Homo sapiens: one gene and its partners. The protein of the gene in region 2 purifies or fractionates together with the protein of the main gene of each other region. This does not show direct contact. Each region holds a gene or a part of one and is shown on either strand. Other genes may lie near its edges.

What was found.
Region 1: the proteins of BPNT2 (region 2) and C1orf198 purify together in Homo sapiens (affinity purification with mass spectrometry; one large-scale study listed by BioGRID and IntAct). This does not show direct contact.
Region 3: the proteins of BPNT2 (region 2) and GOLPH3 purify together in Homo sapiens (affinity purification with mass spectrometry; one large-scale study listed by BioGRID and IntAct). This does not show direct contact.
Region 4: the proteins of BPNT2 (region 2) and OCRL purify together in Homo sapiens (affinity purification with mass spectrometry; one large-scale study listed by BioGRID and IntAct). This does not show direct contact.
Region 5: the proteins of BPNT2 (region 2) and GOLPH3L purify together in Homo sapiens (affinity purification with mass spectrometry; one large-scale study listed by BioGRID and IntAct). This does not show direct contact.
Region 6: the proteins of BPNT2 (region 2) and SOAT1 purify together in Homo sapiens (affinity purification with mass spectrometry; one large-scale study listed by BioGRID and IntAct). This does not show direct contact.
Region 7: the proteins of BPNT2 (region 2) and CSGALNACT2 purify together in Homo sapiens (affinity purification with mass spectrometry; one large-scale study listed by BioGRID and IntAct). This does not show direct contact.

Annotation. Positions count from the first base shown.
Region 1 is NC_000001.11:230,837,367-230,841,503, forward strand, and holds part of C1orf198 (uncharacterized protein C1orf198), read right to left. Parts: intron 2,543-4,137; coding exon 2,486-2,542; 3' UTR 1-2,485.
Region 2 is NC_000008.11:56,980,041-56,984,177, forward strand, and holds part of BPNT2 (Golgi-resident adenosine 3',5'-bisphosphate 3'-phosphatase), read right to left. Parts: intron 158-4,137; coding exon 1-157. UniProt on the Homo sapiens protein: Exhibits 3'-nucleotidase activity toward adenosine 3',5'-bisphosphate (PAP), namely hydrolyzes adenosine 3',5'-bisphosphate into adenosine 5'-monophosphate (AMP) and a phosphate.
Region 3 is NC_000005.10:32,167,183-32,171,319, reverse strand, and holds part of GOLPH3 (Golgi phosphoprotein 3), read left to right. Parts: intron 1-4,137. UniProt on the Homo sapiens protein: Phosphatidylinositol-4-phosphate-binding protein that links Golgi membranes to the cytoskeleton and may participate in the tensile force required for vesicle budding from the Golgi.
Region 4 is NC_000023.11:129,560,627-129,564,763, forward strand, and holds part of OCRL (inositol polyphosphate 5-phosphatase OCRL), read left to right. Parts: coding exon 1-25; intron 26-552; coding exon 553-667; intron 668-1,757; coding exon 1,758-1,874; intron 1,875-1,972; coding exon 1,973-2,160; intron 2,161-4,137. UniProt on the Homo sapiens protein: Catalyzes the hydrolysis of the 5-position phosphate of phosphatidylinositol 4,5-bisphosphate (PtdIns(4,5)P2) and phosphatidylinositol-3,4,5-bisphosphate (PtdIns(3,4,5)P3), with the greatest catalytic activity towards PtdIns(4,5)P2.
Region 5 is NC_000001.11:150,686,844-150,690,980, forward strand, and holds part of GOLPH3L (Golgi phosphoprotein 3-like), read right to left. Parts: intron 1-4,137. UniProt on the Homo sapiens protein: Phosphatidylinositol-4-phosphate-binding protein that may antagonize the action of GOLPH3 which is required for the process of vesicle budding at the Golgi and anterograde transport to the plasma membrane.
Region 6 is NC_000001.11:179,341,935-179,346,071, reverse strand, and holds part of SOAT1 (sterol O-acyltransferase 1), read right to left. Parts: intron 4,063-4,137; exon of another isoform or gene 3,959-4,062; coding exon 3,880-3,958; intron 3,211-3,879; coding exon 3,129-3,210; intron 2,483-3,128; coding exon 2,437-2,482; intron 1,126-2,436; coding exon 996-1,125; intron 1-995.
Region 7 is NC_000010.11:43,175,925-43,180,061, forward strand, and holds part of CSGALNACT2 (chondroitin sulfate N-acetylgalactosaminyltransferase 2), read left to right. Parts: intron 1-26; coding exon 27-108; intron 109-4,137. UniProt on the Homo sapiens protein: Transfers 1,4-N-acetylgalactosamine (GalNAc) from UDP-GalNAc to the non-reducing end of glucuronic acid (GlcUA). Required for addition of the first GalNAc to the core tetrasaccharide linker and for elongation of chondroitin chains.

The DNA of each region.
Region 1 (4,137 bases), on a different chromosome or scaffold from region 2:
GCTGGTTGCTGATTTCTTGGGGGAACTTTTGTAAAAATGAAGACACTGAATCCTTGAGCTGAATCCCAGGTGCAGAGACTGGGGGGAGGTGGAGAATCCAAAATCATGCTCAGGTTTCTCCTGAAAAGTGTGTATTTTCTAAAAAATAAATATAAACTCCTGGTTTGAGAAACTCCCTCATGATGAATGGGAGGAAAATCATGGCAAATGGAGAGCTAAGAAACCATCTTCGCATAGACTTTGCCCAAGGTGTAGAGGAAGATCTGCCGGTCAGGCAGGATGAAGACCCACACAGGAGCCTGTGTCCTCCAGGTCGTCCCTTCTTCCAAAAGCACAGCAAAGCAATACAACTTGAGGACTCCCTCCAAGATTTCCTAATTTTTGATTTTACATTTAATCTCAGGAGGCTATACCATTAAGAAACATTATTAGAGTTATTGCTGGGTGCTGGGCCCCAGACGATACTAAGTGAGGCAGAAGCTTTCAATAATTCCTACAGCCCTCAGCACCAAGAAGAACTTGGAGGGAATATTGGGCTTGTTGAGAAAGTGGGAAAGAAATTAGAATTTCTCCCAATAGAAGAGGCAGATCACCTTGGCCTACTCTCTAGGACACAGGTCTTTCTTCTGTGCTACACCAACACTACAGAATACAAACTCATACATATACATTTGCTACCATAGGTTCTACAACAGCCCCATGCCCTCCAGGCAGAAGGTGGAGGCAGGTGGCCGCTGATTCTGAGGATCCCTGTGTGAACAGTGCCGTTAGCCCTGAGGGGAGCTGGCGCTTGCCCAGGCTGTGCCAACTGGGATTTCTAAGCTCCTTTTTCCCTCACCACCATGCTGAAACCTTTTTTTGCCTCACATATATCAACTATACTTAAATGGTACAGAAAGAACCAATATTTGAAAAGTTACAGTAAATCACTGAAGCAGAAAGATAAAACTATACCCCAAGGATCCAAATGAGGTTTAGGGACATAAAACAATTGGCAAGAACCAAATCAAAAGTTGGCTATGCCACAGCTTTGGCAGAAACTTTCCTGGAGATGATGAGGGGTTGAGGTGAGTTGCTATGTGCTTTATTTTGGAGCCAGATAAAATATTCTGGAAATCATTTCAGAAGGTCCTATGAAACAGGCATTTAAAAAAAAAAAAAAAAGAAGAAGACACACTTTGGTATTGAAACCGAGCGCTCACTGGCAGGTGTCGCAAAGATTAAGGCTTCAGGTGAGAACGCAGTGATGGCAACATGGAGATGGCGCCATACCGGGCTTGAGGCTCTGCTCAGACGCCTCCTGCAGGCTCACACGGCTCAGGGGCCACTGGGCAGGACAGCCTCTGAGTGCAGCAGCTTCCCTAGGGGAGGTGGACCACGTTGTACCACTGGGCAGCCTTGGTGTCTGCACCAGCTCCAAGAGATACTGCTGCTCTGACACCACGCAGGTCTCCATGGGCACTGCTGAGTTGACCGCAAACTCCACTCTTCCACTTCTGGTGGTGGTCAGGGCTGGGGAAGGTCCGTCATGACGCAACCTGGCTAGCCCTTGGGATAAAGAATGCCCACTGCTCCCATCAGTCCCATGCTGGAAGACTCTAACACAACTAAGCAGAAGAGCCCTGACCTCCAGCCACATCTGCCGTCTGCCCTGACTCCTGTAGGTGCCCAGTCCGGGGAACAACCAACAGGTCACATAAGCAACAAGAACTTCCAAGAGGAAATGGATATAAAACCAAGGAAAGTGGTAGCCCCATTGTTGATAATCTAGATACAAAATAATGAAAAGCTAGTACAAAACTCTTTAAACATGCAACTCTTTTTAAACAACAATCCATACTCTGAATATGTATCAGAGCAGGTTAAAGACTACACTGCTACATACCCGCAGTCTGTTCCCTGGAAATGGCGTGAGGGTGGAGGCTGGCACATGATGTGAGAGACATGGCTTCTGCCAGAGAAGCCCCGGACAGCTGCGAGCGCTGGCTGAGAACGTCGCTGGGGGCCAGTCTTTCCGGGGTCACAGCCAGCATGCTGATGTCATGGCTGATAACATCACCCTCAATCACCCACCAAAAGGAACCCATACGGTAAAAAGCGGAGGGGGGAGGGGGAATAATGGAGAAGGAGATGGAAATCACTTATATGATTTTTGTGACATGGTTGAAACACATCCTTTGAGGAGGGGGAAAGTTGGGTGGAGCTGGGAACAGAAGTTTTATTTACAAGATCTCCTGAATTATTAACAGACCTTAAAAATTCCAAATGGAAAACTTCTGTTATCAAATCACTGAAAATAGCATATATATCTGGTTCTACCAAAAAAGAAAAAAATCTGGCAATATTGACCAGTTTCCAAATGATTAAGAAAAGAGTGTCAAGAAACCAGTAAAATACATAGGAAAAGGTGGCCCTTTTTATCCTCCTCCACCACACCACTTTGGAAAACATTTTAGGGTTCTTCATTGTATTTTTCTAATACATTTTACCAATTGTCCAGAAAATCAAATCCCGTCTTCAAGACGACATTACTTGAGCTGACCTGTAGAAGGGACAAAAACATGGAAGTAAGACGAGCCTCTTTTTTTCAGTTACGTATAATCTAAAAACAGCATCTCATTTAAAACGACCCAGATAAAAGAGCCTACTTCTGTCTCAGAGGTTCCCTGACCTCAATTTATCTCAGTGCTTGAAATCAGAAGATTAAATACAGTTCAATGCAATCTATACTCTGCCAGCATCCAACACTAACCCCTCTTCAACCCCAGGCATGTCTGTGAGCAGCTTACAGACCTTACAGAGAAAAGAACAATGTCTCTGTATTTTTCTATAAATCTTTTCTGTTTCTGAATGACAGCCATGTTTAAATTTATTCATCCTAAATAAGAGAACAAATGATAAAGATATTCCTTCAAATATAAAACAAACATCACACACAAACACAACAAAAAAGAACTTGTAAAGTTGAGAAAGTAAACATAGTGTGGAAAGAATGTGAAGCTTATTTCTTTCAGATCTTGTGAAAGGTTATGAAGTGATTTTCCCAAACTCTAAGCTCAGCCTCCGGGGCTCAAGCGATCCTCTTGCCTCGGCCTCCCACGTAGCTGGGACTACAGGCATGCACCAGGCGTGCACCACAAGGCCTGGTTTAATGTCATTCTTCTTTCAGGGGAAAGGGCTTAACTGACAGGTCCCCTCTTGTGAGCATGGGCTGTCTCAAGCTGCTGCTGTTTTCATAAAACTTCTGACTGGCTTCCACTCAGCAGCCTGTTTCTGATGTCCCTTTCCTCCAGCCTAACACCGGCAGGCATTTACCTGGTGCGCCAAGGTCTTCTTGAGCAAAGAAACCTTGACTCTCCACCCTCCAAGCAGCCGGCCAGCAGAAAATGCATACATGGCGGCAAGAGCAGGCAATGGGCTAATGGGCTTGCCCTTGACACCTGTCTCAGGCCCAGTTTGGCTACATGTGAGACTGGTGCAGAGTGAGGCAAAACATGCAGAATGGAAGGAGTGCAATCCAGTTTTCCTTGTTCTGGTTTCCTTCCAGTTTCTTAAATGCAGTGGCATTTCACTGTGCTTTACTCAGAAATCTGTTCTCTCAAAGGAATTTCATGTGCTGTCTCCTACTCTCCACTGCCCACACAGAAACACGTTCCTGCTTCTCTTTAGAGTGGGGACTATCACCTATTTTATGGAAATACTTCTTTCAGAGGAAGCCCTCAGTGCCGAGTCTCAGAGAAAGAGTGCTGGTTAGGGAGGCAGGGAACTGAGCCTGTCTGTAAGGAGGAGCTGATGGGCAGGAGGATGTGAGACAGAAAACAGAACGGAGAGATGGGCAGGTACCGGAGAAGGCAGGAAACAAGAGGGCTGAAAGCACTAGCTTAAGAAGGTGCAGAAACACGAAGAGGACAGGCTAGAGCACTGATGTGGAGCCGAGGTGGGCAGAAGGTACTAGCACCGCTGGATCCTCCCTCCTCGGGAGGACAGCACGTGCAGCCATCTGCCGAGGGAGGTGTGGAAGTACTGGAAACCTGCTCTGGGGGACATTCAATGTTATCAGTGATGATCTCAACTCAACAACAAAATAACCAAAAATTTAAAAATGGGCAAGGGACCATTGGACATTTCTCCAAAGAA
Region 2 (4,137 bases):
ATTCCTGTGTAGCATCAAGTGGGTCAATCCAGACAGTAACACTTTCTGCTGGTACCTCTTTAGGAGTAGTTACTTCCTTTAGGATATCCTCAGGAATCTTATGATCCCACAAGATAACCTCCTGATCAGCTGCATCCACGTGTTCCTCAGTATTAATCTGCATTAAAAACAGGTGACAGTTAAAAAAAGTAAGACGAACAATCACTATTTGATAAACTACAAAAGTATTTCAGACAACAATCACCCAAATTATAAATAAGTAAATCCCTATTTTTATTTCTTTTGATGCTCCATATTGCAAAATGAAAATGAAAATGAAAAAAAAAAATCCATGACATCAGGTCTTTAAATGCTTCCCAATCTAATATTCAAGCCTGGTTTGTTGACTAATCAAGACAGATAATTCGGATATAGAGAAATATAGAGAAACTGAGCATTGAAGAAACAAGCTACTTAAACCTTAACAATGCTTTATGAAAGATAATAGCTCTAAAGTGTGAAAATAGACAATATTCTGGAACACAACACAAGCAACTAGAGTTAGAAGAAAGACGTATCATAGAATAGGGAGGTACAGTCAAATTTTCTACCTTTTTTTTTTTAACTAAGGAACAAAATTAAAAGATAAAATAAATTTAACTTACCATACAGATATGTAAGGATGTGGGGTAAGGAGAGAAATATAAGTAGAGGAAGGGTTGTTACGAGAATAGAGGAATATATTCTCTCCTTAAGGAATATATTCTCTCCTTACCCCACACCCTTACATACATACATATACACACACACACACACACACACACACACACACAAACCCCCCTTACACATATATATTCTCTCTGTATAATATATATTATATATTATTTCTACATATAACATATATATACATGTGTTTGTATAATACTTTATGTAAGTATTCTATTCATTTACAAACACATTACAGATTCCTTTAAATTGAGATTGCTCAATTTGGCACGACTGACAATTTGGACTGTATAATTCCTTGTTGTGGGGCTGTCCTGTGCATTGTAGGATGTTTAACAGCATCCCTGGCTGAATGCCACTAGAACGCACCAGATGCCAGCAACAACACCCTCAGGTGTGACAAACAAAAATGTCTCCGGACATTGTCAAGTGCGCCCCTGTCCCATCCTATGTAAAAAACACTGTTTTCAACAGTGTGCTTCTTAATGCATCCTAAAATTAGTCTAATTTGTAAAACAGTGTTTTAAAAATAATGTTTTGGCCAAGTGTGGTGGCTCACGCCTGTAATCCCAGCACTTCGGGAGGCCGAGGCGGCTGGATCACGAGGTCAAGAGATCAAGGCCATCCTGGCCGACATGGTAAAACCCCATCTCTACTAAAAATACAAAAATTAGCCAGGCATGGTGGTGCGTGCCTGTAGTTCCAACCACTCGGGAGGCTGAGGCAGGAGAATCACTTGAACCCTGGAGGTGGAGGTTGCAGTGAGCCAAGATCACGCCACTGCACTCCAGCCTGGCGACAGAGCAAGACTCCATCTCAAAAAAAACAAAAAATAAATAATAATAAAAAAATGTTTTAGAACTGCATTTACTTTTGTAAACTGGCATATACCAATTGACTAAATCTAAGAATTGAGTGTTCTTTAAGAATTAAGTTAATAACAGATCATCAATCTTATATGAATACTGCCTCACCATGAGACTTCTATCACATCATCATACACACACACAAGAAAAAATGTCCCCAAAATTTTGATTTTAGTTAGGGACTTACACTCTCAGCAGGACAGGCTGTTGGGTCCTGTGCTTTCTGACAAGCTCCCTTTCCAGAGTAGGTCATGTTTATGCTACATGTGATGCCATGCCTAGACCCCACGCTACAGTGCCAAAGCGATTACAGCACTGACAATACATGAGTATTGTCAATACAACATCTCTCACCTATAGTCTTCAGAAAGTTGCAGAGACACAGACATGATTTTAAAAAATATAACTATCACCAATCTCCAGAAGGTACCCTGAAACACCCCAAATTATCACAGGAGAGGTTAAAAATACTAATATTCTAGAAACATCAAACCGCTTAAATCATTAAATATCTCTTTTTTTTTTTTTTTTGAGACGGAGTCTCGCTCTGTCACCAGGTTGGAGTGCAGTGGTGTAATCTCGGCTCACTGCAACTTCCACTTTCCGGGTTCGAGTGATTCTCCTGCCTCAGCCTCCGAGTAGCTGGCACTACAGGCACCCACCACCACACCCAGCTAATTTTTGTATTTTTAGTAGAGACGAGATTTCACCGTGTTGGCCAGGATGGTCTCGATCTCCTGACTTCATGATCTGCCCGCCTCGGCCTCCCAAAGTACTGGGATTACAGGCATGAGCCACCGCGCCTGGTAAATCTTTAAATATTTCTCAGTACAGAGCAAAGTAAACATTCAATTTATTCACTTATGTCTTTATTAATTCAGCAAATGCTTATTGATTGCCTACTATATGACAGACACAGTTACAGGTCTTAAAGATACCACAGTGATCAATGTGAGACAAAAATTTCTGCCCTGTGGAACTTAGATTCTAGTATAGATAAACAACGAGACACATGAAAAAACATGTAGTATGCTGGATAGTGATAAGGAGGAAAAAATAAAGACCAAAAGGACAGAAAGAGTGTTGTTGGAGAGTAGAGAAAGGACTGTTAGAGAGTAGTGGAAGGGTTATTCTTTAAGAAAAAGGGGTAGATAGTATTAAGAAAGGGTGGCTAGGCAATTATTCATAATGGCTAAAATCAGAAAACTACTAATTCCATCAATTAGTAGTTTATCCATTACCCTGATGAATGGATAAATATATTTGGTATATCCATACAATGGAAAGTTACTCAGCCATATATACGAATAAAGTATTGATCATGCTAAATCATGGATGAACCCCCTTGCTTTGTGAAAGCATCAACATACAAGAGATCATATACTGTTTGATTCCATTAATGTAAAATGTCCGGAAAGGCAAATCTATAGAGAAAGACCGATTAGTGGTTGCCTGGGATAAGGGATAAAAACAAGAATAAACAGTTAATGGGGTCAGGGGTATTATTAGGGTGGTGAAAATGTTCTAAAACTGATTAATGATGATAGTTGTACAATTTGGCAGTTCTAAAAATTACTGAATTGTATACTTGAAATAGACAAATTGTAAGATATAAAAACTATGCTGCAATGAAGTTGTTTTGAAAAAAAAGTAATGTAGCTAGAGAAGCCCCTCACTGAAAAGGTGGTATTTGACTGAAGAGATCTAAAGAAAATAAGCCTGGCAGGCATCTAGAAGTGCATTCTAGCCCAATAAATAACAAATGAAAAGATCCTAAGGTGGGAATGTGCCTGGTGTGTTCAGAGGGCAGCAAGGAGGCCAGCAAGGCTACAGCAGAGTGAGCCAAGGAGAAAGGCTAAGGAGCTGAGGTCAGAGAGTAATGGAAGCCAGATGGTGAAGGACCTCGCAGGCTGCAACACAGAGCCAGTTGCCCTCCATCATAACAGCTATTAACAATGTGCAGAGGGTCCTAGTCATTGCAGTAAGCTAAAGGGAGGGGGAGAGGAGCAAGTGGGGAGGTACAAAGTTTAGAAAGAAAAACCAATCCATAATATGAAGTTGATTATTGAGCACTGAGAAAATCTAAAAGAGCTTGCAGATAAATGCAACTCCAATCAAAATCCCCAGTGTTTTTTGTTGTTGTTGGTTTTTTTTAACCTTCTCCTTGGAAACTGGACAAGGCATTTCTGAAAATTACATGGTAGAACAAAAAGTCAAGAAGCAACACAACATTTTGGGAAGAGGGGAAAAAAAATACCATCATGGTGTGGTGACTTACCTTACCAGATATCAAGACCAGAATAATTAAGACAGTGTGGCACTGGTGAGGCATTTTGGCTTCAGAAACCACTCTTAACAACAATGCCAGACTACCTCAGATGAATGAAGATAACAGTAACACCATGCAAAAAGGAATAAACTTCAAAAAAAAAAGAAACATGACTCCTAGAAAAGACGAAGTAGCTTATGGGCCTTAACCACTGTAGCTTACAAAACGGCAGTGCCAAGTCTGGCAACTACTGAGCTTCACTGATTTTTTGCACAATTCAAGTCAGCTTCTCCATGT
Region 3 (4,137 bases), on a different chromosome or scaffold from region 2:
TAAAACATTATGAAATTTTTTTTGCAATTTTTTTTTTTTAAAGCTCATCAGCTATTGCTAGTGTTAGTGTATTTTATATATGGCCCAAGACAGTTCTTCCAGTGTGGCCCAGGGAAGCCAAAAGGTTGGACACCCTTGCTCTAAATGTTTAAGGTGAAGCATATTAACATGCTGTTTTTCGGTGATTGGGTCTTAAGAAGATAATCTAAATAATTTGTTGAAGTTTAACCATACTCACATAATTTAAACAATTTAAAGTTATTTGGCGGGTAATTGAAACCATGTGTTCTGTTTATTTTGCATCAAGAGTCACTCATTATACTTTGCTAGTCATGGCTAAGGTCCAGATGCTTGCTAGCTTATTGTGAGCATTTCTTCCTGATTTCAGCAACCACATGGGGAAATTTTTTCTCTTTTTTTTTAGGCAAGTCCAGAGAGTTGAGGGGTGGGGTTGAGACTACTGGGATTTTGTATTGCTTTAGGTTTTGGTTTTAGGGATTAGCCTATATATTTTTTCCTTTCATCACATCTTTAAAATTTTTTTTTTTAAGAGATGGAGGTCTCAAGATGTTGCCCAGGCTGCACTCAAACTCCTGGGCTCAAGTGATCCGCCCTGAGTAGCTGGGAATACAAGGTGCATGCCATCAAGCCAACTCATCATGTCTTTACACTCTAATAACCAGCCCTGTCAACTTATCTGTTGGTATGTTTTTCCCTTGGGAGGCTCGCCACCATGTTTTTAACCTATAGTACTCTTTTTAGGAGGCAGGAATTGCTGTCTTACCCTGAGCCCAGGCGTTTATGCTAACTCATTGCTTTAACTGATTTTTACTTCAGCATTTATCTTTTTAATGTCTGGATTCTCCTAAGAACTTTAAAAGCTAAACTTTACATTTAAGCAAATCATTAATGTTGGAAATATTTTATATATGTGAGCTAATAACCTTATGTGAATATACTTGTTAAACCAGTACCTAGAGCAAGAAACAGAAGCCCTAGCCCTCCACTTGAGTATCTTTCCAGTCACTACCCATTCCTCAGGGGTAACCACTGGCTTAATATTAGAATTCAGCATAGATTAATTTTGCCTAGTTTTTTGTACTTTGTGTCTGCTTTTTGTTCAATGTGAGATTCATCCATATCGTGTGAGATTGTCCTTTGTTCTTATTGTCTTACCAATTTATTTTTAACATGTTTATAATCTATAATATTTAAAAAATTACTTTGACATATTCTGAGTCAAGTCTCCCTCTCTTTTTTGCTGAACAGAAGGTTCAGTTTTTGAATAAGCAGATGGTCTGGCTTCAGATTACCTGTTAGGAGTGAGTCTAAAGTCATTGTGATTGATTTTTTTTTTTTTCTTTACACATTTCAGATTTTTTTTTTTTAACCAATGATATTTGTTTTTTGCTTTTATAAAACAGGGATGGCTAGTCCCCTCAGAAGATTTTCATGCTCACTTGGGCAGAGAATCAGTGCATAAGTATTTAAGTAACTCTTTAAAGACCACAGTAAGGATGGCAGATAGTTTACACCTAAATTCAACTGCCAAGTAATTAGCAGTATTTCTTTAATTGACCCAGTGTTTGAGGGGGAGGGACAGCAAAAGTGCCAGGTATTTTCCTTTCCCTGTGTGTGTTTATTCTATAGATGCTTTCCATAGAATATTTTCAGGATGCTTTATTGAGAATTACCACAAATAACTGGTGTCATATATGTTTGAATGTCTTCATTGGTGGCAAATCTTAGTCTTTTAAGGTTAGATTTAATTATTTTCAGTGGCCAAGTATAATTTGGAGTATGCCTATGGAACAGCAGAAGCAGAGAGAGGCTCTATAGTCCTGTCCAAAGTGTATTCTTTGGCTTTTACATATAATTTAAGCCTTCTGAGCTTCAGTGTTTTCATGTATAATGGAAAAGTAGTCATTCCATATGATGGTTCTGATTGTACTGCTGTGGATGTTTATTAACTCCTCCCCAGGTCTTCGCTTTATTTTGTATTACTTTAGGGTTTCCCCATAGTGTGTTGCCTGTTTTTGAGACAGGGTCTTTCTTTGTCACCCAGGCTGGAGTGCAGTGGTGCGATCTTGGCTCACTGCAGCCTCAACCTCTTGGGCTAAAGTGATCCTCCTGCCTCAGCTTCCCGAGGAGCTAGGACCACAGGCACACACCACCATGCCCAGCTAATTAAAAAAAAATTTTTTTTTTATAAAGACAGGGATTTCACCACATGGCTCAGGCTGGTCTTGAACTCCTGGGATCAAGTGATCCTCCCGCTTCAGTCTCCCAAAGTGCAGGTATTAGAGGCATGAGCCACCGCACCTGTTTTTTTTTTTGTTGTTGTGTTTTTTGGTTTTTGTTTTAAGACAGATTGTGCTGTGTCGCCAGGCTAGAGTACAGTGGCGAGATCATAGCTCACTGCAGCCTCGAACTCCTGGCCTCAAGTGATCCTCCCGCCTCAGCCTCCCAAAGTGTTGGGATTACTGCGACCGGCTCTAGGATGCACTCTTGAAGCATATTATTCCCCTGCTGTTTTGTCATGCAGCCAGACTTGTCCAATCATATGTTTTCTTTCAGGGCTTTGGATCTTGAGAGAATAACGAGCTGTAGGGTTTTTTGGAGACCTTTCCAGAGTCATGTCAGCGTGTGGATCAGACTGTTCTTTGGCATGGTTCTTTGAGCTGCTTTCTCTGGTCTGTTGGCACTGTTTTTTTCCAGTCTGATTTTCCAGTCATCTTTCAGTGTTGTGAGTTTCAACAGCCTTCCAGTAAAGTTGCTTTTTAAAGATAGCCAGAGTCAGTTACTAATGTTTCTAATGCTTGTAGACAAGAACTGTAATACAGTAACTTAACTCTATGTCTTGAAAAATAAGTAGGTACTTGAGGTAAATAATATGTAATGGGGTAAAATACTTAAGATTAACCAAAATGATAGAACTGACTTTTGTGTGGCTTTTACACAGGCTCCAAAGATGTTTTCCATTTTTGGAATAAGGTTCCCAAGGTCACTACTTTGAAGTATAATAGTGATGAAGATGTATAACTTAACAAAAATTGTTTTCCTTTCTATACGTGTGGTGATGTCCACCATCTCTACATATCAAATCTGTAAATCAGAAATTCAGTCAACAAGTATTCAGAATTTCCAGATGTGCTGAGTTTTAGTAATTTAAAATATAATAAAGGCTTCTGAGTTTTTAATGAATTTTCGTTGTTTCTAAGACAAATGATATTTCCTTCATATTTTTTGAAGTTTTGAATTTTTATCTATTTTTTTCAGGTGTTTAAACACAGGTATGAGATATACAGGATCTCAGAAATTACTTTTGAAGTTCATTAAACTATTTGATTGTACTTTTTTTCTTTTGAGACAGGGCCTAGCTTTGTCTTCCAGACTGGAGTGTGGTGGTGTGATCATGGCTCATTGCAACCTCGACCTCCTGAACTCAAGCAATCCTCCCTCCTCAGTCTCCTGAATAGCTGGGACTATAGGCGCACCCTATCATGCCCAGCTAATTAAAAAAAAAAATTTTTTTTTGTAGAGACGTGGTCTCACTATGTTGCCTAGTCTCGAACTCCTGGCCTCAAGCAATCTTCCCGCCTTGGCCTCCCAAAGTTCTGGGATTACAGGTGTGAGCCACCACGCCTGGTCTGCTTATTATACCTTTTCAACAAGATTTTATACTGTTGAAATTACTTTTTAGTGCTTTGGGATTCTTTTACAATATGGTCAAAATATTCACTAACTCATCTCATAAGTTATACTAATATTTGATATTTGTTAATTTTGGACTACCTGAGAGTTCTTGTATGGAGCATTTGAATTACGTTTTAGAATTGTATTTTGAAGGCTGGGTGCGGTGGCTCACACCTGTAATCCCAGTACTTTGGGAAGCCGAGGTGGATGGATCACCTGAGGTCAGGAGTTCAAGACAAGCCTGGCCAACATGGTGAACCCCTGTCTCTATTAAAAATATAAAAATTAGCCAGACATGGTGGCGAGCACCTGTAATCCCAGCTACTCGGGAGGCTGAGGCAGGAGAATCACTTGAACCTGAGAGGCGGAGGTTGCAGTGAGCCAAGATTGCGCCACTGCACTCCAGCCTGGGCGACAAGAGTGGAACTCCATCTCAAAAGA
Region 4 (4,137 bases), on a different chromosome or scaffold from region 2:
ATCCTCCTGATATCTACTGCATTGGGTAAAGAACACTTCTGGAATTTCCTTTTGGCTATATGTTTGGTGTTCATTTACATGATGTTTTGCCTTTTTTAAAAAAGACTGTTGGTAAAACCTACTGTAGACTATACACGAGAGTTAACTTGCGGGTCAAATTTGTGAGAACAGAAATGAACAGATACCTAAAATGGTGTAAGGAAGCATCTAATTTTCTTGAAACCCGTAGGAATCTATATATTCTGCATAGAAACTAAGACTTGGGGTCAGTTCTAACAGTGACAGTTCCTAGGATATAAGAGCAAAGCTCTGCTGTTATCCTCTGTGGGAGGTATTTTGATTTATTTTTTGCATAGCTTATGAATGTACTTGTGGGAATTCTTTAGAAAAGAAAGCTACTTGTTCTTACTGATAACCTGGGTGAACAGAGCAGTTCTATAAAATTTATCTCTCTCCCATCTTTTTTTCATCTAATGTTTCAACATATGGGACAGGAGGTAGCCAGAGATAATTATGGGATATGTATAGATCTCATATCCCTTTTTTCCTCAGATTCCAAGAACTGGACTTGAGCACAGAAGCCTTCTTCTACTTTGAATCTGTGAAGGAACAAGAATGGTCCATGGCTGTAGAGAGAGGTTTGCATTCCAAAGCCAAGTATAAGAAAGTAAGCCGCATTTAATTATCTTTTTAAGTGTATGACTAAATAGGGCTCACCGGGAGTTATTCCATTATCTACAACTTGTTCCAAAAGAATAGTTTAATTGAATTCTTCTCTGTGTGTAATACTGGGATAGGGCAGATTGATCATTCATCCTTATTTCCTAGAAAAAAAAATCCCTAAGCTTTCTGATACTATATTTTCATTGCTTAGATAGCTTTTAGGGGAAAAAAGAATTTTATTATGCTTATATCAATACTTAGTTTGAAATAATTACATATAAGATTTAGATTACTCACTGACATGGTCAGAATTGAATGCTTTACAGAAAAGCAATATGAAACGTGGGCGCATGGTGCATGTGTTGCAATCAGAGCAAGAATAGAAGTGGTGTGGAATTTGAACGAGTTCTAAACTTGGTTTTAAGTTAAGAGGAGAGTTGACTTTAGCAAGATGGGCCAATTTGTTTGTCTTTAGAAGGTATGTGGTAAAGGCATTTAGCTACCAGAAGAGTTAATTACAGGGCTATCATACTAAGGTCTCTAAAAGAAGTAATGTGAGTAATTTTTCTCTACATCTTCTAACAGTTTATATAGGTAATAAAACTCCTGGGGATGTTATTCCTCTCATATAGGTCCCTGACTAATGTATATCTCAGACATATTTCTAGCTGTAGTTCACAAGTTAAAAATAAGTAAAAAAGATTGCTGTTTGGTTGATTTCAATTTCTTAGAAAATTAGACATCAGAAACTAGGAAGGAAAGGTGGAAGGAACAAGCTGGGATAGTGGCTTTATTATTTGAACTTTTAATGCTGCTTACTCCTGGTAGGCTAAGAAGTGATTAAAAGAATAGATCTAGAGCTGAAAGTACTCATTGTCCCTCCCAGCTTTTAACTCTTATTGGTCAGTGCCAGATTAGAGCCTCCCCAGAGAATATTAGTTTCCACTTGACGGGGTCCACTGAGAAATTAGAGGATATGAAGTCAGATTTGGGCACTAGTATATCATCTTGATGGAAAATTAGTCGTGGGACATTAGAAATGTGGCAAAGATTGGTATTAACATTAACCTTTTGTAACTCCCCGGAACTCATAGGTTCAACTGGTGCGCCTTGTTGGGATGATGCTTCTTATATTTGCCAGAAAGGATCAGTGTCGATACATTCGTGATATTGCTACAGAAACAGTTGGAACTGGAATCATGGGGAAAATGGTGAGTTACTTTGGAAATGAGCTTGATTATTATTCATGTTCATGTAAAGTTCAGTTGCTTGTTCTGTGTACTAATTGAATAATTACTCTTGCTAACAGGGAAACAAAGGTGGGGTAGCTGTGAGATTTGTATTTCACAACACCACCTTTTGCATTGTCAATTCCCATCTGGCTGCACACGTGGAGGACTTTGAGAGAAGGAATCAAGATTATAAGGACATTTGTGCGAGAATGAGTTTTGTGGTCCCAAATCAGACCCTCCCGCAGTTGAACATCATGAAACATGAGTAAGTGGTTAACTCACCTGTAGCCTTTGAGTAGTGGCTACAGGAGTTTGGATAGTGTAGAGATTAAATGTGAGATACTGTAGAGCTGTGAAGAGTGAAAGATTACCAGTGAGGGATTGGGGTCACAAAGGAGAGGGTTTTTGAGTAATAACAGAATCATTGAGGCAGAGAAATTAGACTTGATATCAGAGGAAAAGATAGTTCTATTAGTGGGGCACCTAGAATAATGCTGGAGGGTCTGTAGTTGGAGTCAGTTTTTATTGTTTTTATGATAAAATAGAAATATTCATTGCAAATGTAATAAAAGATAAAATTAGAAGTTAAATTTCCTCATTTCTTATTCTCTACCTAGCCAGTCCCTCTCTCCAAAGGAAACCATTCTTAACAGTTGGGTGTGTAGCCTTTTAGATCTGTACTGTCCAATATGACAACCAGTAGCCATATATGGCTGTTAGGTACCTGAAAGTGACTGGTCCAAATTAAGATATGCTGTATGCATAAGCTATATATTGGATTTTAAAGACTTAGGAAGAAGATGTACGATATCTTGATTTCTAAAATATTGATCACATGTTGAAATAATTTGGATATATTGAGTAAAATGAAATTTATTGATACTCACTTGTTTTTTTTCTTTTTAAATGCAGCTACTAGAAAACTTAAAATTATATTGTGAGGTGCATTATAATTCTATTAAATAGCACTATTCTAGCCTTTTGTCTATTCATATACAAACACACACATAGGTACTTGGTGTATAAGACTGTATTATTCTATTTATTGTGGATTCCTTTCCAAGCCAGTATATATAGATCTACATTATTCTTTTTAATGGCTGTGCTTATTAAAAACAGGGGCAGCAGAGAGAGGTCAGTGAAGAATGGGATTTAATAAGCATAGAAGCAGAGATGTGTTGAGGAGTAGATGTGGTGGTAGAAAATGATTAGTTTTAAAGAAATTAATATACCTAAAACCATGAAAACCCTAGAAGAAAACCTAGGCATTACCATTCAGGACATAGGCATGGGCAAGGACTTCATGTCTAAAACACCAAAAGCAATGGCAACAAAAGCCAAAATTGACAAATGGGATCTAATTCAACTAAAGAGCTTCTGCACAGCAAAAGAAACTACCATCAGAGTGAACAGGCAACCTACAAAATGGGAGAAAATTTTCGCAACCTACTCATCTGACAAAGGGCTAATATCCAGAATCTACAATGAACTCAAACAAATTTACAAGAAAAAAACAACCCCATCAAAAAGTGGGCAAAGGACATGAACAGACACTTCTCAAAAGAAGACATTTATGCAGCCAAAAAACACATGAAAAAATGCTCACCATCACTGGCCATCAGAGAAACGCAAATCAAAACCACAATGAGATACCATCTCACACCAGTTAGAATGGCAATCATTAAAAAGTCAGGAGACAACAGGTGCTGGAGAGGATGTGGAGAAATAGGAACACTTTTACACTGTTGGTGGGACTGTAAACTAGTTCAACCCTTGTGGAAGTCAGTGTGGCGATTCCTCAGGGATCTAGAACTAGAAATACCATTTGACCCAGCCATCCCATTACTGGGTATATACCCAAAGGACTATAAATCATGCTGCTATAAAGACATATGCACACGTATGTTTATCGCGGCACTATTCACAATAGCAAAGACTTGGAACCAAGCCAAATGTCCAACAATGATAGACTGGATTAAGAAAATGTGGCACATATACACCATGGAATACTATGCAGCCATAAAAAATGATGAGCTCATGTCCTTTGTAGGGACATGGATGAAATTGGAAATCATCATTCACAGTAAACTATCGCAAGAACAAAAAACCAAACACTGCATGTTCTCACTCATAGGTGGGAATTGAACAATGAGAACACATGGACACAGGAAGGGGAACATCACACTCTGGGGACTGTTGTGGGGTGGGGGGAGCGGGGAGGGATAGCTTTAGGAGATATACC
Region 5 (4,137 bases), on a different chromosome or scaffold from region 2:
TTTTCCTACTATTAAAACAGGTCTTTGGTCTTCCAGTTTATTTCCTTTTATACCAATAGTAAATAGTTATTTGGGGTTAATATGCCTGGATATAATAAAAAACAAAAGTTAATTTTTTTAACAGCTTATGTTTAAAGAAAAAAACCTGACAAACAAGCCCTTCTGATACAGTTGCCCTATTCACAATCGCAGTAGCTACTGGGAGACTTATTGTTCATTTTGCGCGATTAGGAAACTAAAAGGAAAGACCAGGTAGTAACTTAAATTAGACTTTTAATTTTTTTTTTTAAGACAAGGTCTTGTTCTTTGCTCGGCCTGCTATTAATATTTTAATTATAATAAAATGCTTTAGGATTGAGTCACTTTTTAAGGCGGCCAATTTTCTTCATTCATAGCCAATAATCAACAAGTTGGACACTGACTGACTGTGACTGATTTTAAAAACCTTTTTGGGCTGGGCGTGGTGGCTCACATCTGTAATCCCAGCACTTTGGGAGGTCGAGGCAGGCGGATCACCTGAGGTCAGGAGTTCGACACCAGCCTGGCTAACGTGGTAAAACCCCGTTTCTACTAAAAATACAAAAAATTAGCCGGGCGTGGTGGTGCATGCCTGTAATCCCAGCTACTTGGGAGGCTGACACAGGAGAATTGAACGCGGGAGGCAGAGGTTGCGGTGAGCCAAGATCGTGCCACTACACTCTAGCTTAGGTAACAAGAGCGAAACTCTGTCTCAAAAAAAAAACAAAAAAAAACTTTTTGATTAGTGAATTTTTTTTACCAGCTTTAAAGAAGCTTTTACTTCTAATCTCCTATTGCTAATAAAGATGAACTATACTTGATGGAGGATCATCAGCAGCTTGAAAAAGCGTAGCATTAACATACTTTATAATTAAAAATACATATGAATTTCATACGTATAATTCCCATACGTATAGTGGATAACAGTAGATTGTTTGAAAAAAGATAACTGACAAGTACCAGGAGAATTTTAGCAGCACTGTTCATAATGAACTCTTGAATGTGCATTAACCCATAGAATGAATAGTGGTATATTCATGTAATGAAATATTAATCAGGATGAACTGGATTAAACTATATGCAACAACATGGACAAATCTCACAAACATTATATTGATCAAAAGAATACATTAAAATATTAACCCAATAAAATAGAGTTTAAAAACAGGCAAAACTAAAATATATTGTTTAGGGATATACATACATGTCAAAACTACAGGGAAGTGGGCAGCATGTGATTAGGGGCAGGCATAAGAGAAGCCTTCCAGGATGCTGATATTGTTCTATTGGTGATTACATGACTGTTGGCTTTCAAACTACTTGTTAAACTGTATATATGTGCTTTATACAATTTTCTGGATACACTGTATTTCACAATTTTAGAAAACTTAAACAATAAAGCATGTAACTGGATGTTCAGCTCTCATACTTCAGTTTTAAAACACTGGAGTTCATTAAAAGGAGATGGGATGCTTTCAGACATCTGTGGTTATTCCAGTTGCACATCACTGAAATTATTAGGAACATCCAGTTGATGTTCTTTTTTCCTAGAACCTGTCTCTTTACAGACTAACTCACTCTTATTCCAGTTAAGAGTTATTACCTCCTGGCGGGGCGCAGTGGCTCACACCTGTAATCCCAGCACTTTGGGAGGCCAAGGCAGTTGGATCACCTGAGGTCAGGAATTCAAGACCAGCCTGGCCAACATGGTGAAACCCCGTCTCTACAAAAATACAAAAATTAGCCGGGGATGGTGGCAGGTGCATGTAATACCAGCTACTTGGGAGGCTGAGGAAGCAGAATCGCTTGAATCCGGGAGGTGGAGGTTGCAGTGAGCCAAGATCACGCCACTGCTTTGCAGCCTGGGTGACAGAATGAGATTCTATCTCAAACAAACAAACAACAAAAAAAAGAGTTATCACCTCCTGTAAGTCTTTCCCAACATCTCTTCTTCCCTCTCCTACTGCTCCTTCCCACCACCCATCTGATTTACGTGCTTTTCCTCTGTGTTTCCTTCCTACTCAGAACACACTTATACACATATCACATTGTTCTGAAATGGTCTGCTGACTTTCTGGCTTCTACTCCCAGCATCTCCAACCATCCCTATGCCACTAAACCATAAATTGACCTCAAAAGCAGGGACAATTGTTTTTGTTCTCTCTTTCTATGACATATGAGTCATTCAATAAAATTTTTGGTGATTAAACAAATAAGTGAAAATGTATTGCCATATTTCCAATGGATAATACTTCTTGCCAATTTTTACCACAGTGACATGAGAAATATGATGAAAAGCTTTTCTTTCACAGTAAGTAGTAAGTATTCAATAAATGGCATTACTAGGAGAAAGCTTTCCAAGAAAGAGAGGATGGTTGAAAAACATTATCCACAAATTAAATAGATGAGAAATGAAAAGACCACTAGGAGTCAAAAGCAGTAATTGGCTTACTCCCCTTACAGGTAACTTAAGAAACGATTCTAATAAATGAAAAGTTTTATACATTAGCAAGTCAATTAAAACACTGTTCATGAGTTAATAATCTATATCAAAACTCTTACCAAAGGCAATAATAACAAATAAGCAGATTCCTGATTTCAACAGGAGATAAACCTATTTTATTTTGGTCAGGCTTGTGCTCAATGTTTACTTTCTCAGTTGAGGTCAGTGTTATTGAACTGAGATAGTATCTAATTTTAACTGTGCTTGAAAGGTTATACTCTTCAAATTATATTTAAATTTCTTGATTGTTTTCATAAGACAATGATACTTAATATTTAATTTAATTAGTTTATATTTTTTGAGGCAGTCTTACTCTGTCACCCAGGCTAGAGTGCAGTAGTGTGACCTTGGCTCATTGCAGCCTCTGCCTCTTGGGTTCAAGAGATTCTCCCATCAGCATAGCTAGGATTACAGGTGCATGCCACCACACCCAGCTAATTTTTTTTTTCCTTTAGTAGAGATGGGGTTTCACCATGTTGGCCAGGCTGGTCTCGAACTCCTGGCCTCAAGTGATTTGCCCGCCTCAAACCTCCCAAAGTGCTGGGATTATAGATGTGAGCCACTGCGTCTGGCCAGATGCTTAATATTTTAAAACCAGTCTGTGGTAGTTACCCCTCAGAAGAATTTTTTTTTTTCTTTTAAGACAGGGTCTCACTCTGTCACCCAGGTTGGAGTACAGTGGCACAAACACAGCTCACTCCAGCCTTGAACTCCTGGGCTCAAGCAATCCTCTCGCCTCAATCTCCCAAGTAGCTGAAACTGCAGGTATGTGACACCATGCCAGGCTAATTTTTATATTTTTTGTAGAGATGAGGTCTCACTATGTTGCCCAGGTTGGTCTAGAATTCCTGGCCTCAGGCAATCCTTCTGTCTCCCAAAGTGCTGGGATTACAGACAGGAGCCACCGTGCCTGCTTGAAAGACACATAGTTTCTAAAAAAATGATAATACTGGGTTCTAAACAGAGGATCTTAGGGAACTCTCCAGTAAAAGTTTGGGAGTTTGGGACACAAAATTTAACATTTAGGATTTTTTCCTTTTTTGACTTGTCACAAATCCCAAACCATGTAAAAACAAGCAATTATATACACATTAAAACATACTCACAAAGAACATAAAAATGTTATTAAGCCCTTAATTTGGACACAAAAATGAAATGGGCTTTGCTGTTTTCATTAGGCTGATTCTCTTTTCCCTAAAGGAAAGAGTCTAAAAGTCTCTGCCTGGTAACAAAATCTATAATCTGGTCCAAATCGAATTTACTGATTTTGAATCCCATTGTTCTCCACCTACTTCAGTCATACTGGCCTACTCACAGTTATCTCCCAAACTCATCAAGCTCATGATACCTTTGCTCACTCAGGTTCCCTCATCCAGAACGTGTTTCCTTTTCTCCATTCATGTTAATCCTCCCATTTTTAAAGGCATGGCTTGTTTTACTGCCTTTTTCTATTCTTCCCCGGATTACTCTATCTCATGATGGTTTCTCCTCTCTCTAACTCCCTTGGCTCATTCTAACATGCAAAAACTTGCTTTTTATTGTTGTTTACTTTAAAAAAAATATTTTGCATTGTGAAATATAATGTACACACAGAAGAATAAACAAAACAAAGTAAA
Region 6 (4,137 bases), on a different chromosome or scaffold from region 2:
CCAACATTCAATGAGTAAAGAAAAGAGGAAAAGTAAGGGAAACTATAAAAGCTCCCAGACTGTAAAGATAATACATCTCTTGTTCACTTCTGAGTCCTCTGCACCTGGCATAGTACTAGGTACTCATATATCTCTATAATAGACAAAAAAATGCAATAAATATATTTAAGAAATCAAGGTATGGTCGGAAAGACAGGAGGAAAATAAGAAATAGTGGCAAAAGGCCAAGCATGGTGGCTCAAGCCTGTAACCCCAGCACTTTGAGAGGCTGAGACAGGAGGATAACTTGAGCCCAGGAGTTTGAGAATGGCCTGGGCAACATAGGGAGACCCCGTCTCTCCAAAAAATAAAAACTTAGCCAGGCATGGTGGCATGCACCTGTAGTCCCAGCTACTGAGGCGAGAGGATCACTCGAGCCCCAGAGGTCGAGGCTAGTAAGCCATGATGACACCACTGCATTCAGACTGGGTGACAAAGAGAGACCCGATTTCAAAAAAAAAAAAGGCAAGAAAACAGTGACAAGAGAGATTTAAAAATGTGGTCAGCAGCACCCAATGCTTCATGGAGGTCAACTTGGATAAGGGGTAAAGTACATCTTAATCCATCCACTGGATTAGAATATGGATTACTAGTAATTTCTACAAGTAATTTCTACAAGTTACTAGTAATTTCAACAAGGGGCATTTAAGTGGCTTGGTGGAATCAGGAGCAAGATTACAATGAACTTAATAGCGAACAGGAAGACACAGCATGAATGTGGACTGTCCACTGTCAGAGAAAGGCACAACTTGAGTGAAAGCCATAAGATGAAAGACTGACCTGAGACTGGATGAAGGATACTTCATTTATAAAGTAGATGCAAAAGAGGTCAAGATGGGCATAGATGTATAGAAGTTTAGATGAAAAAGTAGGCAAAGCAAAGGTGCTCATAGGCAATAGCTTTCTATTTACCTCGTGAATTTATGCATGACCAAATTAACAAGTACCCATGTTACCTGGCAAGATGGAGTTAAATACACATAGGACCAGAACACGAGCGCTGAAGGGCTCCTGTTTGATATTCCGAAACAAGGGGGCACAAAGCCTTTCAAAGATGTAGTACACATAGAAAAAGCAACCAAAGACCTGGAACATAACAGAGACAGAATTATAATAACGATGGCTTAATAAGATGGAAGGCGATTTTTTTCTCTCCAAAAGAAAGTACAGATGTGACCCTTACAGTAATGTTCGCATATGTATTCCATTTAACACTAGTATAGAAGACTGCTATAATCCTTCAGGGAGATTACTCAAGCCTAGTTTCTACCATCACTTTTCCTAACCCTTTACCAAATGATATTTTTAGAAGAGCTTACTCTTGGAACCTGTTTTCCTGCTGCTTAAAACCCGTAACATGGCCGGGCACAGTGGCTCACGCTTGTAATCCCAGCACTTTGGGAGGCTGAGGCGGGTGGATGACTTGAGGTCAGAGTTCGAGACCAGCCTGGCCAACATGGTGAAACCCCATCTGTACTAAAAATACAAAAATTAGCCAGGCGCAGTGGTGGGCACCTGTAATCCCAGCTACTCAGGAGGCTGATGCAGGAGAATCGTTTGAACACAGGAGGTAGAGGTTGCAGTGAGCCAAGACTGCATCACTGCACTCCAGCATCGGTAACAGAGCAGGACTCCTTCTCAAAAAAAAAAAAAAAAAAAAAAAAAAAAAAAAAAAAAAACCCCTTAATGAAAGAACTTACTTCATAAATGGGCATTTGATTGAGACACTAATTTAAAATGGGATCTTCCAGGATTAATGATTCTGATGGAGGTGGGAGGAGGAATGGGTAAGAGTCAGACTATACCCACATACATATATACCTCCCCCAAAAACAGGAAGGAAGGGGGAAATTAATGCTTACTGAAATAACCAATTAGAATTACTTTATAAATAATACATTCTTTTTTTTTTTAGATGGAGTCTTGCTCTGTCGCCCAGGCTGGAGTGCAGAGGAGTGATCTCAGCTCACTGTAACCTCCATATCCCAGGTTCAAGCAATTCTCCTGCCTCAGCCTCCTGAGTAGCTGAGATTACAGGTACGTGCCTCCACGCCAGGCTAATTTTTGTATTTTTAGTAGAGATGGGGTTTCACCATGTTGGCCAGGCTGGTCTTGAACTCCTGACCTCGCGATCTGCCCACCTAGGCCTCCCAAAGTGCTGGGATTACAGGCGCAAGCCACTGCGCCCAGCCTAATATATTCTTTTATTAAAGAAAATTACTTTTGATGTTGGCAAAACAAACACCATTTACCGTACTGGAAATAGTTTAAAAGACTGCATAATGTCAACAGAAAGCATTCTTAGCTCCCAATTAGATTTAACTAGATTATATTATTATCATAAATATGAATCCCCATCCCCTAATCAACATACCTTAGGCAGTTACAAAAACTTACCTGTGCAAACTTCATAGCGACATAACCCCATCTTACAGTGGGATTCCTGAAAAAGAAAGAAACAAAAATAAGGTTTCTAAATAAAGTAATTGAACTTGAATAAAGACCCTCACAATTAATGTTTTTTGGTCAGGCGCGGTGGCTCACACCTGTAATCCAAGCACTTTGGAAGGCAGTGACCAGGAGTTCGAGACCAGCCTGGCCAATATGGTGAAACCCCGTCTCTAATAAAAATACAAAAAAACCAACCGGGCGTGGTGGCACACACCTGTAATGCCAGCTACTTGGGATGCTGAGGCAGGAGAATCACTTGAACCCAGGAGGCAGAGGTTGCAGGGAGCCGACATAGCACCACTGCACTCCTGGGTGACAGAGCAAGACTCCCATCTCAGAAAAAACTAAAATTAATTAATTAATAAAAAATAAATTAAAAATAATAAAAATAAATAAAAATTAATTAATTCAGAACATCATTTATGACCATATGAAATACTTTATAATTCTGTCAAGAATTACTATAATCAAATTAGACTTCCCTACTCACCATTTGAGGCTTCTCAGGTCAGACAGAAAATGAAAACTCATTCTATATTTTCTATGTCCCTACATGAACTGGCCCCTGTTTACCTATCCCACCTCACTCATGCCACACTTTTGGTGTTTACCACATTTCTGGTTCACAGTACCATTACCTGGGATAGCTGTCACGGTAGATAAGGGTAGGAGCAAATAAGAAGTACAAATACTGGTTGACTGTAGGTATTGGAACAGTGCCTAGAAAAGGAAAACTATAGTTAGAGCAAAGGCTCTTTGATTTTTCACAGCAAAAATACAGGGGGGAATATAAGGAAGCACAGAACAGGGAAGAATAAAATGACTTATCAGCTCATGTTCTTTTTTCCTGATCTCCGGAATGACTTCTTATTCTTGCACGAATTGAATATTACCAATCTCTTTAAACCAAGTTATTCCTGTGACTGAGATAACTTCTAGAGTGTGAAGCAACAATTTGCAAAGAATAGGCAGGCACAGGTGTAATGAGGCTATTAACATTCCATAAAAATAATGCAAAGTTGCAAAAGATAATCAATTTTTTAAAATTGTAGGTTCAAGGGCAAAGCCGGAATAGTCAGGAAACAATGAAGTGGTCCTCAAAATCAATATGGATAATATATATTTGAAATAAAACACAATCTCTACATTATATAATGTGACATCCCAGAAAACAACAAAGGGTGAAATATCCAGCCAATAATCCTTTAAACTAATGAAATTACACAAAGAAAAGAAAAGAAAAAGAGAGAGAGAGAGAAAGAGAAAGAGAAAAAGAGAGAGGGAGGGAGGGAAGGAAAGAAGGAAAGAAGGGAAGGGAAGGGAAGGGAATGGGGTGGGGGGAGAGGAGGGGAGGGGAGGAAGAAATAATGAACAAAAGAAATTACATACTTGATTTCTCCTTAGCTGAATTTAGTACCCGAGGCACGTTCTCTCTGACAAATGAGTGGGCCTTCATTACAAAACGAATCTACAAAAGCAGGAGGAAAAAGATGTCTCTTCAAAGAAAGTCTCCTGCAAGTGTCCTTTCCATTAGTCAAATGCATTATAGATAGCCAGTAAAGTCAGAAAATCCTGATAAGTGTATAAACAAATTAAAATAAAACCTTTATTATATAGTTACATGACAAAACAATGAATCTGACATTT
Region 7 (4,137 bases), on a different chromosome or scaffold from region 2:
TTTCTGTTTTTTTTTTTTTAACTAAGGTTCACAAAAAGGATTCTGGCTTTTGGCGAGATTTTGGCTTTGGAATGACTTGTCAGTATCGTTCAGATTTCCTGACCATTGGTAAGTATACTTTACATTTAAGGATAGGACTTTATTTACTCCAGACTTAATGGTATTTTGCTAAAAGGTCTCAGATTTGAGTGTTTTCCTACTAAAGTATGAGTGTCTAAGGTTAGCTAAAAAGAGAAACTGGATATACAAAAGGCAAAATAAGTTTATAATTAATGTTTTGAATAGGAAAAAAATGGTCATAAAAATAAAGTATAATATTTACTTGTTCCTTTAAAATCAAAACACCTGTTTTTAAAAATATCTGTTTAACTTGTTACCCATAGTTGCAGGTGTTTAGAGTAGTCTTACAAAAGCTTTCTCTATAACTTTACTGTTGTGCCCATGGGTTGTTACAGCTGGGAGTAATCTTGGTTATCTAGACCAAGGACTTTCACATTTTTTTGAGATGAAACCTCCTTTACTTGTCTAGTGAACTGTTACACAAAATCCCAGTATTTAATACAAATGAAAGAAGACCTGCTCTTTCTAGCGCGTCTTGGAATCACACCTTAGTCATGCATTCCCCTAAGCCTAAAGATGGCCCATGAATAATTTGTTCTAACTATCCTGCATGCTCTGTTGTCCAGGCTGAAGAGCAGTGGCACAATCTTGGCTCACTGCAGCCTCTGCCTCCCAGGCTCAAGCGATCCTCCTACCTCAATCCCCAAGTAGCTGTGACCACAGGCGTGCACCACCACACCCAGTTAATTTTTTTGTTTGTTTTGTAGAGGCGGAGCTTCATTATATTGCCTAGGCTGGTCTTGAACTCCTGGGTTCAAGCAATCTGCCCACCTTGGCCTCCCAAAGTGCTGGGATTGCAGGCGTGAGCCACCATGCCCAGCCCCTAGCTTCAGTCTTACCCAGCAAAATATAAAGTGTCAAAGAATAGTTTAATAAAGCAGGCTGAAACCTGATTCCATGTCTTCTGATTCATTTAGGGCTAGCTACCTTTCTACAGCATAGAAGTCATAGAATATATTTTATATACATTCTAGGTCCATATCACATTCGTTTTTATAACCAGCCTTTTGTTTTGGAAATCCCCCCACCTTGTCTCCTTATCATTGTAACACTTGAATAATGGAAAATCAGGAAATAACAATAAAAGGGGCGTTAAATTAAACTGATGCTCTTTTCCTTGATTTCTTGCTTAGTTAAGCAAGCAGCATTTCACTATTCCTCAAAAATAGATTTGTGTACATTTTTTCAGTATCTTGAATGCTTTGAGTTCCTTATCTCTTTTTTATGACAATTTTATTGAGATATAGTTTACATATCATAAAATTTATTAATTTAAAGTGTACGGTTAACCAGGTCATGTAGCTATCACCACCATCAAATTTAGAGCATTTCACCCCAAAAAGAAATCCCATACCCATTAACAATCACTCCTCACATCCTACCAACCCTCTTTCCCCCCAAACTTAGGCATCTACTGGTCTACTTCCTATAGATTTGCCTCTTCTGGGAATTTAATAGAAAGCAAATTGTACAATATGTGGCCTTTTATGACTGGCTTCTTTCACTCACATAATGTTTTCAAAGTTCATCCATGTTGTGACATGTTAGGTACTTCATTCCTTTTTATAGCCAAAAAATGTTCTATTGTGTGGTTATACCACATTTTGTTTCTCCATTTGTCAGTTTATATGCATTTGAGTTGTTTCTACTTTTTGGCTATTATAAATACTGCTGCTGTGAACATTTGTGTTTAACTTTTTGGGTGGACATAGATTTTCAATTCTCTTGGACATATGCCCAGGACTCTGGCTGGGTCATATGGTAATCCTGTGTTTGACCTTTTGAGAAATTGCCACACCGTTTTCCAAAGTGGCTGCATCATTTTACATTCCCACCAGCAGTGTTTAGGAGTTCCAGTTTCCCCACATCCTCATTAATACATGTTATTATCTTTTTGTTTCTAGTATCACCCATGATAGTGGATGTGGTATTGATTGTGACTCTGATTATAATTTTTCTTATGATTAATGTTGTTGAGCATCTCTTGATGTGTTTATTGGCCATTTGTATATCTTTAGTGAAATGTCTGTTCAGATCCTTTGCCCATTTTAATTGGGTTATGGAGTTTCTTGGGCTTCTTGAATATGTACATTAATGTTTTTCATCAAATTTGGGAAGTTTCAGCCATTATAGTCATCTCTCAGTACCTGCATGGGATTGGATCCAGGATACCATGTGGAACCAAAATCCATGGTCGATCAAGTCCCTTATGTAAATATACATATTTTCATATTACCTGTGCATATCTGCCCATATACTTTAAACCATCTCTAGATTGCTTATAATACCTAATACAGGCCAGGCACGGTGGCTCACGCCTGTAATCCCAGCACTTTGGGAGGCCGAGGCGGGCAGATCACGAGGTCAGGAGATCAAGATCATCCTGGCTAACAAGGTAAAACCCTGTCTCTACTAAAAATACAAAAATTAGCCAGGCGTGGTGGCAGGCGCCTGTAGTCCCAGCTACTTGGGAGGCTGAGGCAGGAGAATGGCATGAACCTGGGAGGCGGAGTTTGCAGTGAGCCGAGATTGCACCACTGCACTCCAGCCTGGGCAACAGAGTGAGACTCCATCAAAAAAAAAAAAAAAAAACCCTAATACAATGTAAATACTATGTAAATAGTTGTTATATTGTATTTAAATTTTTATATTTATTGTTATTTTTTATCGTTTTTTTCCCTAATATTTTTGAACCATGTTGGTTGATTCTATGGGATGTGGAACTCATGCATATGGAGGGCTGACTGTATTTCTTTGAATACTTTTTCTGCTCCATTCTCATAGTTTTCTCCTTTGACACTCACTGTATGTATGTTGGTACATTTAATGGTATCCCACATTTTTCTTAGGCTCTGTTTATTTCTCTTCATTCTTTTCTCCCTCTGTTCTTCAGATTGCATAATTTCTATTGATCTATCCAAGTTCTCTGATTGTTTTTTCTGTTAGATCTACTGTTGAGCTACTCTAATGAATTTTTATTTCAGTTACTATAGTTTTTAACTTCAGAATTTCTATGTGGTTCTTTTGATATATATATAATTTCTTTATTAATACTCTATGTGATGAAACATTGTCATCTTCTGTTACTTCCTTAAGTGTGACTTCTTTTAATTCTTTGAACATACTTACAATGGCTGCTTTGGAATTTTTGTGTATTAAAGCTAATGTCTGGGCCCTAACACAGGCAGTTTTTGTTGCTTGCCGGTTTTTTTTTTTTTTTTAAGCGTATGTCACATCTTCTTGTTTCTTTGCATTCCTCATTATTTCTTTTTCGAAAACTAGACATTTTAGGTAATACACTGTGGCAACTCTGGATACTGATTTCCCTCTACCACCACGGCTTGGTTTTTTTTTTTCCTTGTTTATTTATTTATTGACATGGCTGGACTATTTTAACAAATTATTTCTTCCTCCTTCCCCGACCTTTTGGCAATATGAAGCCTCTGCTGTTGCTCCTCAGGGCCTGTGCAGTTATCCTAGGATGGCATTGGATTTAGCAGGGCTCTCTTTATCTCTTTCCATGCCTCCATTGGTATCACTCCTATTAGACTCCACTGACTGTTCACTAATTGCTGTCTTGTTTTTGACAATGCTCTGGGGCATAAATTGCTCCATAATCTGTCCCTACTAAATTGGGCCCTTTTGCAGGGATAGTTTTTGCAGCAAGTCTTTGAGATTTGTTCAGACCCCAGGAGGTATATTCTTACTATCTCTCTCTGTGGTTCTCTCTAGTAAATTAGCTGGCCTACAGTTTAGCTGTTGCCCTCCTGGAGTTACCAGCCTCCTCTTAATTGCTTACTACCAAAATCTCCATTATTTTCAAGAGGCTGGAACTTCTCTAAACTCTGAACTTCTCTACATTCTATTTTAAATAAAGTCAGTTCCTTAGGGAAGAACTTTGGAGCACTTTGTTCTTATGGACTTCCTCTCCCCCGGGGGAAAAAATCCATGAGGTTTTGCCCTGAGGATGGGGACAGTGACACACTTATTAAGCAGAGTGACCACCTCTGCCCTATG